Homo sapiens: one gene and its partner. The protein of the gene in region 1 purifies or fractionates together with the protein of each later gene. This does not show direct contact. Each region holds a gene or a part of one and is shown on either strand. Other genes may lie near its edges.

Region 1 (3,815 bases):
ATCTTACCCTTGGCCGCGGCATCTAGCTCAGGGCCAGGCGCTCCATGGGGCGTTCTGAAGGCTTATTGACTGGAGACAAGTTAATTCTCAAAGGCCTCAACTGAGGGTGGCCGTCGCCGAGGATTTAGGGGCCCCTCCAAAGCCTTAGACACCAAGGGACAAGTGGAGAGATTGTGGGAGCCAGCCCCCAGTGTGAAGGAGTGCTGAGAAAGGGGCACCCCTCCTGATGAGGGAGGGAGCTGCTGCAGAACTCCAGGGGGTGTGATCAGGGGGGACTCCCCATGCAGGTCGGTGTCAGACCTGGCTGGGGCCCAGCTATGACCTCTCTGGTCTGGTCCTCCCAGGGGTTGAGGTGACTGGCCAGTATGAGAGGGAGAAGGCTGGGTTCTCATGGATCGAAGTGACCTTCAAGAACCCCCTGGTATGGGTTCACGCATCCCCTGAACACGTGGTGGTGACTCGGAACCGAAGAAGCTCTGCGTACAAGTGGAAGGAGACGCTATTCTCAGTGATGCCCGGGTAAGGCCCAGGCTGGAGCCCGGGGCAGGGGTTGACCTTTCAGGCTACAGTGGCTGATGATGGTACCAGCAGGTGGCCTGAGGCCATGGACCTGAGAATGGAGCAGCTACACTCACAGGAGGGGCAAAGAGACAAGAGCCCTGCCATATACCCCTGCAGCTCCGGAGGGCACTGAGGAGTTGTCCCAGGGACCTAACCCAGGTCACTATCCCATGCAGGAGACAGTGTGGTTTGGAGCTAGCTCTGCTGCTAATCCTTGTGACCCTGGGCAGGCAGCTAAGTCCCTCTGAGCCTCAGTTTCTTCACCAATAACCAGTACTAATCATCCTGGCCCAGAGTCAGAAGGCTGGGGGGAGAACCCAATGAGAGAGTGTAGTTGGGAGCACTTTGCCGTCAGATGATACAGTGCCCCCCAAGCACCCCACAGGACAGCGCTGCCTACATAGTGACGTGATGTTCTGATGACAATAGTGAGAAGCTGGAGAGCACTGTTGACAGCATGTTACCAGCATTCTCTTTAGCGTATCCTTGGAGCTTTGCTAAGGAGACACAAGTCAGTGGCCTCAAATACTGAGCAGCTGGTGAATAATGGAGGCAGAAGGCCACCTCTTTTGGGTGAGGGAGCTCACTGCTTCACAGTGGCCTTCCAGGGACAGTCTTCCAGCTTTGCAGATCACGAGGGGCGTCCAGGAAGGGCTGAGGCCCTCGTCCTCTGTGGGCAGTGACCTCCAAGCCCCCACCCTGTGCCACAGCTCACCCTTTTCCAAGTATGGAGAGCCTTGTCCAGCCCTGTCTCACCAAGCCCTCTGCGGGAACTCCCTTGCACTTGACAGATGAGTGCACACCCAGCTTATCCAAGGGCTCACCCAAAAACCTTCCCAATTTCATAAAAGATCTACGCCCGGTGTGGTGGCTCACGCCTGTAATCCCAGCACTTTGGTAGGCCAAGGTGGGTGGATTGCCTGAGCTCAGGAGTTTGAGACTAGCCTGGCCAACATAGTGAAACCCCGTCTCTACTAAAAATACAAAAACTAGCTAGGTATGGTGGCGGGCACCTGTAATCCCAGCTACTCAGGAGGCTGAGAATTGCTTGAAGCTGGGAGATGGAGGTTGCAGTGAGCTGAGTTAACACCACTGCGCTCCAGCCTGGGCAACAGAGTGAGACCCTATCTCCGAAAAAAGGAAAAAAAAAAAAGATCTAAAATTCCTTGCTATCTGGTAGATTCACCAAAATCAATAGCATTTTTATGCCTAGAAAATGAAATAGAAGTAAAATCCTATTAATTGTAGGGAGAGAAAGTCCAAATAGTTTCATGAGCTACAGAAGACATAAAGAAAAATAGGTTGGGCACGGTGGCTCATGCCTGTAATCCCAGCACTTTGGGAGGCCAGCGCAGGTGGATCACCTAAGGTCAGGAATTGGAGACCAGCCTGGCCAACATGGTGAAACCCCGTCTCTACTAAAAATACAAAAATTAGCTGGGTGTGGTGGCACGCCTGTAATCCCAGCTACTCGGGAGGCTGAGGTAGGAGAACCGCTTGAACCCAGGAGGTGGAGGTTGCAGTGAGCTGAGATTGCACCACTGCACTTCAGCCTGGGCGACAGAGCGAGACTCCGTCTCAAAAAAAAAAAAAAAGAAAAAAGAAAAAAACCCACATATTTTAGATTGAATTGAAGCAATAGAACAGTGTATGTTTAGGGAAAATTTGTTTCAAATAACCTCTGAGTAACAGCAGGGTCTTATTCAACATGCTCAAAGGAACCTAACATTCATGAGAACACCAGAAAGGCAAGAATTTCAAGGGTTATTTTAACTAAAAATCTGAGGAGACAGAATGAGAAGAGGCCTATCCTTTAGACATTAAACACATGATTAAACACAAGTCATCCAAAGAGAGTGCACCAGCTGTAGAACAAAAGGGACAGAGTGGATGCATCAGAGAAACTCCTTCAATCATATAAAATTAATTTATGACAAACTGAATTTAAGAAAACCAGAGGCCGGGTGCGGTGGCTCACGCCTGTAATCCCAGCACCTTGGGAGGCTGAGGCAGGCAGATTGCTTCAGCTCAGGAGTTTGAGACCAGCCTGGGCAACATGGTGAAACCCTGTCTCTCTTAAAAATAAAATTAGCTGGACATGGTGGCATGTACCTGCAGTACCAGCTACTTGGGAGGTAGAGGTGGGAGAATCACTTGAGCCGAGGAGGCACAGGTTGCAACGAGCTGAGATCACACCACTGCACTGCAGCCTGGGGGACAGAGTGAGACCCTGTCCCTGCCCCACCAAAAAAGAGAAAGAAAAAAAAGTGATGGGGAAACTAGACATCATTAAGTTAACTTTGGTCCTATTTTACCAATGAGGAAACTGAAATCAGAAGATTTAAGGGCCTTCCCACCCAAGGCCACTCCGTGACTTCCTGGACAAGAGGGGAAGCCCAGCCCACTCCCCACCCTGACTACTGAGGTTCTGTGCACACGTCTCTACCTTCCTGCTCAAGACACTGGGTCTTTCCACAGCCTGAAGATGACCATGGACAAGACGGGTCTCCTGCTGCTCAGTGACCCAGACAAAGTGACCATCGGCCTGTTGTTCTGGGATGGCCGTGGGGAGGGGCTCCGGCTCCTTCTGCGTGACACTGACCGCTTCTCCAGCCACGTTGGAGGGACCCTTGGTACTGAGCCCATTACCGGGGCCCAGGCCTTCCTCAGAAACCAGCTGTGCTTGGGAACAGGCAGCGCCCCTCCCCTGCGTGTGTCTCCCAGGCTTCCTCTGTCTCTGACCCTTACTGATCCACCCTTTGTATCTCAGGCCAGTTTTACCAGGAGGTGCTCTGGGGATCTCCAGCAGCATCAGATGACGGCAGACGCACGCTGAGGGTTCAGGGCAATGACCACTCTGCCACCAGGTGACTTGGCACAAGCAGACCGCTGAGCCCAGCTGGGGTGGGGTGGGGACTGGCAGGCCAGGAGCCAGGCTCTCCAGGGCCCCACTCCTGTCCTTGCCCAGGAACTAGACACAGTCCGGTGGAAGGTTGATGCTGTAGAAGTGTCTAAGCCAGCTTTCAGTGACCCCACAAAAGATGGATGGCCATCTCAGACCCACAGAAAACACATGGGCCCTGAGATCCCTGGGGTTGGTTGGGGACAGTCGGAACCTCTCCCTGTCCACACCCTGAACTCCCAGAGCCTAAACCCTGGAGACCTCACGTACTGGCTTCTCTAGGGTAATGCTCTGGGTGACTGGGCCTTGTTGGCCTATGCTGGAGGGAATTCTAAAGGGACGCCAGGACTCC
Region 2 (3,815 bases), on another chromosome or scaffold:
TGGGAGGCTGAGGCAGGAGAACTGCTTGAACTCGGGAGGCAGAGATTGCAGTGAGCTGAGATCATGTCAATGCACTGCAGCTTGAGTGACAGAGTGAGACCCTGTCTCGAAAAAAACCCTCCTCTATGAAGTCTTCCAGCCACTTTTACTGAGTAGCTCTCTTTGGCACCCTCTATTTCATTCATTCATTTATTCAGCAAACACTGAATGAGCACCTATGATAGGAGGCATTGTTCTAGGCACTACAGATACAGAAGGAAACAAGACAGGTTCCTGTATTCAAGTAGAGAGACAGTATCTTAGGGAGACAGACAATGTCCTAGGCAAATAAGCAAATAAATGACATAATTTCAGATGGTGATGAGTGTAATGAATATAATAAAACAGGAGTGATATTACAGGGTGAGGAGGAGGCTGCTTTAATGGGGAGAAGACTTCTCCACCAAGGTGACCTCTGAGCTGACACCCAAATGACAAGAAGGAACAAGCTATGTGAGGATCTGAGTGAAGAGGGATACAGGCAGAAACAAAAGCTAAGGAAAGCTCCCAATGTGGAACCAAGCCTAGCATGTTCCAAGAACAGAGCCTTTGTTTCTCAGCCAGGTATTGAGACATTGTCTCTTACTGTTTTCTGTCTCATAGGTCTGTGTTTTGCCATCCTAAAAAGGTGGAAATATCTGGTAACTGGGGATGAGATAGCTTGCCAGTTGGGATCCTCTGGGCTCCATATTCTGTCTTCTCTCCCTCCCTACTCATCAAACTAAATTGTTCAATTTCTGCTAATGCACTTAAGCCATTTAACTCATGTGCACACATGCACTTACCACATATATGCATATACAAGGATATACTTATACACGTCTACACATGTATATGTATGCTGTACACAGGTACCCACATACACACAGGACTTGCTAAGCCACCAGAGTCTTCTGATGAGTTGACTGGAAAAAGAAACAGATGTGTAGAATAGGAACACGACTCACATTTTGCCATTCAATATAGTAGAGATGCATGAAGAAACTTGAGAATCCTGTTTCCAGCCTAAAATATACAATGTCTGCCTTGGCCAAGGCTAGAGAAAGGAGAAGGAGAAAAGATAGGGTGGAAATACAGATGGAAGGAGTAGAAGTGATGAATTTGTAAGCATGTACCCCAAAATGATGGGACTACAGCAGAAAAAAAGTCAGGAGACTCAAGTAGGTTTCAAACAGGAGAAGGAAAGGTTAAGAACTTACCTTGGCTTTCAAAGTTTGGTCAATGAAATGGGCCACAGGGTACTTCTTGCTATTCATCATGGGCACTTTTATAACTGAGTTTTTGAAGTGAAAGGGTTCCATTCTGGTTTTCTTGGGATCAAATGTTGTCTTCCACTTGGCTAGAGGGAAGAGGTGGGAGGGTTGCTCTAATGCAGGTAGGAAAAGGATGAAGAGGAGCTAAAAGCCTTGTTAGCAAAGAGTAGTGCAGGGACATTGAGATCCGATTGTAGAACTTGGGGTTAAGTGGGCTTTGAAGCCAGGAGGGGAAGAAGGACCCAGAATGGGAAGACTAACTGGCTAAGGGCACCCTTACCACTCAGGTAGATAGCATTGAGGAGGACAAGGCGGGTATCGGAGGGCAGACTGTCTAGCAGCCGGCTGATCTTGTTGTTGGTGTTCTTGGCCACCCAGGTGTTGATGAGCTCCAAGTTGGCGTCACTGTTGTTGCTTAGGACTCTGGGGCTGCTGCTGTACAGGGTCCGAGAGGCATTCACAAAGGTGTCCCTTATGGCCAGGTCTGGGGGTATGTTGAGAAAGGGAGGCATGAGTCCTGAACACGTCGTTCTTTCCATGAGCACGATTTGAGAGTGAGCATGCTTTCTATGGTTCTATCTGCTCACTTAGTGAATACGGCATGGTGGAGCGCGGTCCAGCCCACTCCTCTTACAGATGTGGCAAATAAGGCCCAAAGAAGGTAAACCCAGAACCAAGAACAAGAGAAGTAGCCCCAAGCCTCCGCTGCCTCAGCTTGCTATGTGACTATGGCTCGGCAAGATAATCTTTTTGAGATATTAAATTCCATTTGCCTAGATTTTCCCTCTTTTCTTCCCTTAATTTTGGCACGGAATAGACTCTGCTTCCTGGCCTTGGTGGAAGTTTGTGACAAAACTTCCTGGCTTTTGCTCTGCAAAAGCCTTCAGTCCACTGAAAAAAAAAAAAAAAAAGCACTTGAAAGATAATTTTTCTAGGACTAAGTAGATTAAAGATATTTTCCCCAGCTGGGCATGGTGGCTCACACCTGTAATCGCAGCACTTTGGGAGGCCAAGGTGGGTGGATCACTGGAGGCCAGGAGTTCAAGACCAGCCTGTAATCCCAGCTATTCGGGAGGCTGAGGCAGGAGAATCACTTGAATCTGGGAGACGGAGGTTGCAGTGAGCTGAGATGGTGCCACTGCATTCCAGCCTGGGCGACAGAGCGAGATTCTGTCTCAAAAAAAAAAAAAAGATATTTTCCCAGGCTTTGCTGATGCCTAAGTACAACATAAGACCAAGAACCTTGCTTGGCACAGCTCCAGTGTGCAGCTAGATGGGGATAGAAGCCCTAATATTGAATGCTGTTACGTATTTTTCACCAACCTAGCAAGACAGCGGATAAAGCTGACTTACAGCTTTGTAAGTAATAAATAAATGCAACATTTCTTGAACACCTCTGAGCCATGTTTTTCCCACATCTGAAAGAGGGTGTTTTTCAGATGATGGGGTGATAGGTGAGTTTTTAAAATTTAAATTAAATTTTTTTTTTTTTAGAGACAGGGTCCTACTCTGTTACCCAACCTAGAGTACAGAGGCATAAACATAGCTCACTCTAACTTCGAATTCCTTGGCTCAAGCAATCCTCCCGTCTCAGTCCTTCATAGCTGGAACTACAGACACGTACCACACCCGGATAATTTTTAAAATTTTTTGTAGAGATGAGGTCTGTCTATGTTGCCCAGAGGCTAGTCTCGAAATTCTAGCCTCAAGCAATCCTCCTACCTCAGCCTCTCAGTGTTGGAATTACAGGCACACTGAGCCAGACCTAAGTATTGTTTTTACAGTTTAAAAAAAAACAAAAAACAAAAAAAACAGCTTAAAAAAAAGTTTTCCTTTTTTTTTTAAAAAGGGAGGTGGGTAGATTAGTTCAATGGTTATCAAACATTTTAAAGCAGCAGAACTGCTTTCAAACAAAGGCATGTCTGAAGCCCACAATATAAAATGGACCCTGGCTGAGGCTGGGTGGGGAGCTCAGAGCCCAGCTGGTCCGTTTCCCTCTCACAGGAAGTGGTGAACCCTTCCCCACTGCTCAGGCTCCCCACACCCCACTCCCACCATGACTCCAGAAACAGCTTTGCAAAGTCCTAGGGCTCCGAGGAACAAAGTCTGAAAACAACTACATTGGATCGTTTTGTAAGTTTATTATTAGTATTATCATTATTACCTACTTAATAACATAATACATGTAAATGATAACAAATTCACATAACACAAAAATTAAAAGAATTAGAGTCCCAAGACTCCTTTGACCCAAAAATGAGCAAAAAAATTTTTTGTCTATTTTATGTCTATAGCTCTCTAGCCCTCTAGCCCTATATATTAATGAATGCATATGGGTATTCTTCTTTTTTTTTTTTTTTTTGAGACAGAGTCTCGGTCTGTCACCCAGGCTGGAATGCAGTGGTGCGATCTCAGCTGACTGCAACCTCTGTCTCCCAGGTTGAAGTTATTCTCCTGCTGGGACTACAGGCGCGTGCCACCACACCTGGCTAATTTTTGTATTTTTAACAGAGACAGGGTTTC

The links.
Region 2: the proteins of ITIH4 (region 1) and SERPING1 purify together in Homo sapiens (affinity purification with mass spectrometry, with the first as the bait; one large-scale study listed by BioGRID). This does not show direct contact.

The regions. Positions count from the first base shown.
Region 1 is NC_000003.12:52,813,588-52,817,402, reverse strand, and holds part of ITIH4 (inter-alpha-trypsin inhibitor heavy chain H4 isoform 1 precursor), read left to right. Parts: intron 1-344; coding exon 345-519; intron 520-3,039; coding exon 3,040-3,194; intron 3,195-3,331; coding exon 3,332-3,428; intron 3,429-3,815. UniProt on the Homo sapiens protein: Type II acute-phase protein (APP) involved in inflammatory responses to trauma. May also play a role in liver development or regeneration.
Region 2 is NC_000011.10:57,603,971-57,607,785, reverse strand, and holds part of SERPING1 (plasma protease C1 inhibitor precursor), read right to left. Parts: intron 1,777-3,815; coding exon 1,573-1,776; intron 1,379-1,572; coding exon 1,239-1,378; intron 1-1,238. UniProt on the Homo sapiens protein: Serine protease inhibitor, which acrs as a regulator of the classical complement pathway. Forms a proteolytically inactive stoichiometric complex with the C1r or C1s proteases. May also regulate blood coagulation, fibrinolysis and the generation of kinins.